Homo sapiens: one gene and its partner. The protein of the gene in region 1 purifies or fractionates together with the protein of each later gene. This does not show direct contact. Each region holds a gene or a part of one and is shown on either strand. Other genes may lie near its edges.

Region 1 (3,750 bases):
TTGGGATTTGAGGTGGGAGAATCACTGGAACCCAAGAAGTCAAGGCTGCAATGAGCCACGATCTTGCCACTGTACTCCAGCCTGGGTGACAGAGTAAGATCCTGTCTGAAAAACTAAACAAAACAAAGAAAAAAAAACCATAAAGTTTTTTTTTTTTTTTTTTTTTTTTTTTTTTTTTTTTTTAAGATGGAGTCTCGCTCTTGTTGCCCAGGCTGGAGTACAATGGCATGATCTTGGCTCACCGCAACCTCCGCTTCCCAGGTTCAAGTGATTCGCCTGCCTCAGCCTTCCCGAGTAGCTGGGATTACAAGCATGCACCACCATGCCCAGCTAATTTTGTGTTTTTAGTAGAGACGGGGTTTCTCCATGTTGGTCAGGCTGGTCCTGAACTCCCGACCTCAGGTGATCCGCCTGGCTCGGCCTCCCAAAGTGCTGGGATTACAGGTGTGAGCCACCGTGACCAGCCAGGTTTTCGGGTTTTATCTGTTTGAGACTTGGTCTCACTCTGCCGCCCAGCCTGGAGCGCAGTGGTGCAATCTTGGCTCACTGCAACCTCTATCGCCCGAGTTCAAGCGATTCTCCTGCCTCAACCTCCCGAGTATCTGGGAGTACAGGTGCGCGCCACCACACCCGTCTAATTTTTTGTATTTATAGTAGAGGCAGAGTTTCATCATGTTGGCCAGGCTGGTCTCCAACTTCTGACCTCAAGTGATCCACCCACCTCGGCCTCCGAAAGTGTTGAGATTACAGGTGTGAGCCACCGCCTCCGGCCTGTTTGTTTTTTTGAGACAGGATCTCACTGTGTCACCCAGCCTGGAGTGCAGTGGCACCATCATAGCTCACTGTAACCTTGAACTCCTGGCCTCAAGTGATCCTCCCAACTTGGCTTCCCAAAGTGCTACGATTACAGGCGTGAGGCATCGTGTCCGGCCTCAACAACGTTTTTTGAAGTGTCTATTCTGTACCAGGTGCCTAAATGTGCTTAAATTAAGAAGGGAGTAAACGCCAACAAAATCCCATATTTACAGGTCTATCACTGACCCCCAAAACCCTATTTAAGGCGGGAACCTGGCAACATAGCCTGGCAGTGAGCTGGCCACTCAGTAAATGCTCCGATTTGCAGGGTCCTCGAGCCAGAGGCACTTTGAGGAGACCCTGATGCAGCCGCCTCCCTTTCTGGAGTGAACCGAAAGCAACGCGACCTGCCTTTCATCACGCAGCCGGCCTGGCAGTACCCGTCTCCAACAGGGCTGGGGATTGCATTTACATTCACACCTGCATACACTTCCGACCCTGCTCCATCCAAACTCAAAACACCGTAGAACCAAAACGGGCTCCCAGAAAGCCTTGCTGGGAAGACCGAGGGTCCTGCGGAAAGGATTCTGCAGGCTGAAGGCTAGGCGCCTCGCCACTCTAGGACTACAATTCCCGAGAGGCCTTGCGACGGAAGCCATCTTTGTTCCCCACCAGGCTAAGCGATTTTCCGGAGGGGGAGTAAGATCCCTTGCGTCACCGGCGCGCGCAGCTGCCGTCGCGGAGAGATGATGTTTAGGTCCGGGACTGTCAGTCAGTGCGCGGCCAGGTACGGGCCGACGGGCCCGCGGGGCCGGCGCCGCCATGGCGGCCGTGTTTGATTTGGATTTGGAGACGGAGGAAGGCAGCGAGGGCGAGGGCGAGCCAGAGCTCAGCCCCGCGGTGAGTGCCCTGCCCTGGCGCGACTGGATCCTGGAGCCGATCCTGTCACCCAGCCGAGGCCGGAGCGGCGGCTCCGCACGCCCAGAGCGGGCTCCGACTCTTTGCAGACCCAGATCCTTCTCAGATCCCGGTCTCTATTAAGTTCTGATCCCACCCTCACCCCGACCTCTCTTCCAGAACCCCAGCCTTTTCTCCCGATTCTCCCTTTCCTGCCTTCGGTTTCTTCCCAATTCTTACCCATCCCCTACTAGCTGCCATCCCTGACACCCTTCTCTCCTGGGCCACGCAGTCCAACCTGAACGGGAGCGGGGAGGTATCCTGGCACCTTCCTTGGCTCTTACCCCTCGGTTTCTCACAGGACGCATGTCCCCTTGCCGAGTTGAGGGCAGCTGGCCTAGAGTGAGTGAGGGTCGTGTTGGGGGAGGGGGGAATGGAGTGGGGAAGGGGAACTGGGGAGCACTGGAGCCTTGTCCTCATTAACTCCTTGTGTCCGTAGGCCTGTGGGACACTATGAAGAGGTGGAGCTGACTGAGACCAGCGTGAACGTTGGCCCAGAGCGCATCGGGCCCCACTGCTTTGAGCTGCTGCGTGTGCTGGGCAAGGGGGGCTATGGCAAGGTAGGGGCGGGCGCACCCTCCTCCTGGCCTCACAGCCTCCATCTGGAGGCAGCAAAGGGTTCTCAAAACAAATTAGACTTGTGAATCAGCAGGGCCTCTAATGGGATTCAGAGCCAGAAACATAAAGGAGGGAAGGCCAAATCCTCTCCAATCGGACTTGAAATCTTCACTGCCCCACCCTTGGCAGGGCCTAGGCCTCCTGATCCCAAAGCCAGAGCTTCAGGGTGGGGCTTCTTGAAGATAGGATGTGGAGAGGGAAGTTGATCCTGTCTCCCCTGCCCTACAGGTGTTCCAGGTGCGAAAGGTGCAAGGCACCAACTTGGGCAAAATATATGCCATGAAAGTCCTAAGGAAGGTGAGTCACTCGTTCAGCCAACGAATACTGTGTGGCTGCCATTCCCAACATGCTGTACCAGGCTTTGGGAAGACAGCAGGGAACACAGTGGAGGAGGATCCCTGACTTTGGCGTTTGCTGGTTTATTGTCTGTTGTGATGTGTATTGTCTTGCAGTAATTCTCAATGGGGGCAATTTTGACTCCCAGCAGACATTTGACAACAGTGTCTGGACACTATTTTATTTTATTTTTTTTTAAGACGGAGTCTTGCTCTGTCACCCAGGCTGGAGTGCAGTGACGCGATTTTGGCTCACTGCCACCTCTGTCTCCCAGGTTCAAGCGATTCTCGTGCCTTAGACTCCGGAGTAGCTGGGATTACAGGCGCTTGCCACCACACCCAGCTAATTTTTGTACTTTTTTGTAGAGGTGGGGTTTCGCCTGGCTGGTCTCTAACTCCTAATCTCAGGTGATCTGCCCGCCTTGGCCTCCAACGTGCTGGGAGCTGGGATTACAGGCATGAGCCACCGTCCCTAGCTTTTTTTTTTTTTTGGATGGAGTCTTGCTTTGTTCCCCAGACTGGAGTGCAGTAGTGCACTCTCTGCTCACTGCAACCTCTGCCTCCCGGGTTCAGGTAATTCTCTTACCTCAGCCTCCTGAGTAGTTGGGACTACAGGCTTGTGCCACCACACCTGGCTAATCTTTGTATTTCTATTTGTTTACCTACTTATTTTGAGACGGAGTCTCACTCTGTCACTCAGGCTGGAGTGCAGTGGTGCGATCTCGGCTCACTGGCAACCTCCACCTCCCAGGGTGAAGTGATTCTCCTGCCTCAGCCTCCTGAGTAGCTGGGATTACAGGCGTGAACCACCACTCCTGGCTAATTTTTTTTTTTTGTATTTTTAGTAGAGATGGGTTTTTGTCATGTTGGTCAGGCTGGTCTTGAACTCCTGACCTCAGGCTATCCGCTCACCTTGGCCTCCCAAAGTGCTGGGATTACAGCCATGAACCACCGTGCCTGGCCTAGTTTTTGTACTTTTTAGTGGAGGCAGGGTTTCACCATGTTGGTCAGGCTGGTCTCGAACTCCTGACCTCAGGTGATTCGC
Region 2 (3,650 bases), on another chromosome or scaffold:
TATGAGATGAGCCTGGAAAAATATACCAGGAGACATTCTGTGTAGATACAGGAATTACATGGTAATTGATAAATTGAAAGGACAAAAAAGTTGAAACTTGGTTATATCTGGCCAACTTGTACCCCATGACTTCTCTTTATAATTCCTTAGTCTGTCCTGACAATGAAAACAATTTGCTGCCAACATCCATTTTAGGAAATGATGAATAGCATTCTGTGCCAATCCCAGTCATTTAGTGGCAGCTGTCTCTGTATGTAACATTGAAGGAATCTGAGGTTACTTGGGGGTTCAAATGGACCACACAGGCATCACTAGATACAGATATCCTAAAAGTTACACTAAACTTTGGAATAGAGATGACTTAAATAATTACTTTCTTTTGTGTATGTGCCATATTCCATTTAAATGCTTTGCATTTGTTAATTTATTTAATGTTTACCAAAAAAACTATAAGGTAGATAATGGCATGCAAAGTTTGGCCAAGGCAGTTCAGCTGATAAGTGGCAAGTGGATGTTACATTGCCTTTTAGTAGGTTGACAACTAGGAGTTTGCAGTCAGATTGCTGATTCTTACTTGTGCCATTCATGAATAGACATCACAAGTAGGTATGGCTTTAACTACATAGTGGAAAGCATTCACTACTTAGTGGATATATAATAGTTATTGATAATACACATGAGTCTTAGAATTAACCACTTTTTCCTATGTAGGCAGAAAGTGAAACTCTTCACTGCTCACAACAATATGACCAACTATGCTACCGTATGGGCATCAAAAACAAACCTTGAGCAACGGAAAGGGCGAGCTGGCCGAGTACGGCCTGGATTCTGCTTTCACCTGTGCAGCCGAGCTCGTTTTGAGAGGTAAGACCCATTCTTGACCTTTAGTAAGGGATTTTTGTTCTGTTCTCTGTAGGGACAGATGTGTGCAGTTATGTAAACCTGCCAATATAAGCTGATCTAAGTCTTGCCAGCCATGTTGGAATCAGGTGTAAATGTTTCGTAAGAATCTTCATCACAAATCATTTAGAGAATAAGCCAGATTTAGAAATATAGAGACCTAGATTTTAATATTATTTGTGCCTAATACATTGTATAACACTAAGTGGTTACTCCTTAGGCCTGCATTTCCCTCATTCTATAAAATATTAAGTTACTTAACCTCTCTTGTTTCCTCAGTTGTAAAAAGAATATAAATAATGCCTAACCCATAGGGTTGGTATAAGTATTAAATGATTTAATAATGTAAAATACTTTGAACAGTGTATGGCACATCATGATCTCCCAATAAGTGTTTGCTGTTGTTAATTTATACAGGTCAGATATCTCTTTTAAAACTGAAATGCTTGGGACCAGAAGTGGTTTTGGATTTTTTTTCTTGGTAATATTTGCATTGTATTTACCAGTCGGGCATCCCTAATCTGAAAATATGAAATCCAAAACGCTCTAATGAGCATTTCCTTTAAGTGTCATGTCAGAAGTCAAAAAGTTTTGGATTTTAAAGATACATCTATAAGAGCCTTTCTAGTGGCACTAAAATTACATGAACTAGGAAGGTGGGAGGTTGTAGAGAAATGTTAGTATGAGTTATCATCCTACAAAAAGTCTTGTTGTCGTTTTTAACCCATGTTTGTCAACAGGCAAGGCCTGAAGAGACCATGGGTGGAGCTAATAACATTCGCGATTTTGGATAATTTTTTCATTTTTCTTCTCAGCCTAAAAGGCTATCAAGCTGTGAGGATAAGTCAGAAACCACTATGCAACCAGATTAAATTTTGTCAACAGTGTGTATAGTGAACGATAAAAGGTCCGATGGTAATTGTAAAATAAAAGGATGAGGAAAAGGCAGCTCTGTATCCCTGATTACCTTGCTGCAAAAAGTTTATTAACATCTGTGTATACACAAGGAGGATGGTTATTTTATGCTTATTTTCTCTTAGACTTGAAACCCACATGACACCAGAGATGTTCCGAACACCATTGCATGAAATTGCTCTTAGCATAAAACTTCTGCGTCTAGGAGGAATTGGCCAATTTCTGGCCAAAGCAATTGAACCTCCCCCTTTGGATGCTGTGATTGAAGCAGAACACACTCTTAGAGGTACTTACAAATACAAACCTACTTGACGCAGATATTAATCATACCATCTGTCTTGTTCTGGCAGATAACACTTACAAATGAATCAAGATGATGAAGATGTAGTCAACAGGGCTGTGATAATAATAGTAAGGCCTCCAGTCTTACCTTAGATAGTTAGTATAGTCACTGTTCTAATGAGCAATGAGAAGGAAGAAAGGGACAATGTGAGTCTTTAAAAAAGAAAAGAAAACTTAAAAAGGCATCTCTTAACTATGTACTAAAGATCAGAACATAACTTACTCATGATACCCACAGTATTTCATATGAATCTCTTACAACTTTTTTTGTTTTTTTGAGACGGAATCTCGCTCCATTGCCCAGGCTGGAGTGCAGTGGCGTGATCTCAGCTCACTGCAACCCCCACCTCCCAGGTTCAAGCCATTCTTCTGCCTCAGCCTCCCGAGTAGCTGAGACTACAGGCATACACCACCACACCCGGCTAATTTTTATATTTTACTAAGACAGGGTTTCACCATGTTGGCCAGGCTCTTCTGAAACTCCCGACCTCAAGTGATCCACTCACCTCAGCCTCCCAAAGTGCTGGGATTACAGGCAGGAGCCACTGTGTCCAGCCTGGAACATTTATTTTTTCTTGCTAAACTTGTTAGAGGTACAGTGAAAATTAAGGGCATTGGAGCTAGATCTGAATTTGAATTTTGAATCTAGCATTTATCTACTATGTAACTTCAGAATTTTCTCTAGATTTTATTTTTTTTAAAACATTAACAGCTGGGTATCAGACTTCTTATGGCATGTAGAAACTTACGCTGCTATTATAGTTAATACTGTATTTATAGACTTCATATGAATTGTATTTGTTTTTATAACCTACAGGATTTAGTTGTAGTACCTTTATGTTGGGTGCTCCAGATTTTGATTTTGTTCTATTTTTGAGTACAGAGAATTGTTGGCCGTAGACATGGTATTAGCGATTGGCTTGACAAAAGAGGAACTCTAAACTGTCTTAACCTTAATTTAGAGTAATGTTTTGTCTGCCTAAAATTAGTGTTCATTTGTTTCTGCTCACAAAGAACTATCTCCCCACAGAGCTTGATGCATTAGATGCCAATGATGAGTTGACTCCTTTGGGACGAATCCTGGCTAAACTCCCCATTGAGCCTCGTTTTGGCAAAATGATGATAATGGGGTGTATTTTCTAGTAAGTGCTTTGTTTTATTTCTCTTCGTTAAGTGGCAGAATAATTTCAGAATCTTCTCCTCCCTGTAAAAGCAGTATTGGCTCAGATAGACAAAAAAAAAATCCTAAATGTTCTTCAGGGAAGTAACATACCTAGATATTGAGAGCAGTGTAACACTAAAAAAATGAACAGTTCCAGTAGGTGGATATCTGGGCCCAATATGGGGAAAAGGGCACTGATTTCTCAAAAGTTAAAAGCAAGCAGGCCAGGCAATGTGGCTCACACCTTGAATCCTAGCACTTTGGGAGGCCAGGGTGGGAGGGTCCCTTGTTATTAATAGTTGGTCTTGAAAGAGCGGTGTCAGGAAAAGAG

What was found. The genes of interacting proteins can lie anywhere in the genome.
Region 2: the proteins of RPS6KB2 (region 1) and DHX9 purify together in Homo sapiens (affinity purification with mass spectrometry, with the first as the bait; 2 studies listed by BioGRID). This does not show direct contact.

Annotation. Positions count from the first base shown.
Region 1 is NC_000011.10:67,426,929-67,430,678, forward strand, and holds the start of RPS6KB2 (ribosomal protein S6 kinase beta-2), read left to right. Parts: upstream 1-1,565; 5' UTR 1,566-1,617; coding exon 1,618-1,695; intron 1,696-2,053; coding exon 2,054-2,094; intron 2,095-2,191; coding exon 2,192-2,312; intron 2,313-2,598; coding exon 2,599-2,667; intron 2,668-3,750. UniProt on the Homo sapiens protein: Phosphorylates specifically ribosomal protein S6. Seems to act downstream of mTOR signaling in response to growth factors and nutrients to promote cell proliferation, cell growth and cell cycle progression in an alternative pathway regulated by MEAK7.
Region 2 is NC_000001.11:182,877,310-182,880,959, forward strand, and holds part of DHX9 (ATP-dependent RNA helicase A), read left to right. Parts: intron 1-711; coding exon 712-864; intron 865-1,940; coding exon 1,941-2,101; intron 2,102-3,187; coding exon 3,188-3,299; intron 3,300-3,650. UniProt on the Homo sapiens protein: Multifunctional ATP-dependent nucleic acid helicase that unwinds DNA and RNA in a 3' to 5' direction and that plays important roles in many processes, such as DNA replication, transcriptional activation, post-transcriptional RNA regulation, mRNA translation and RNA-mediated gene silencing.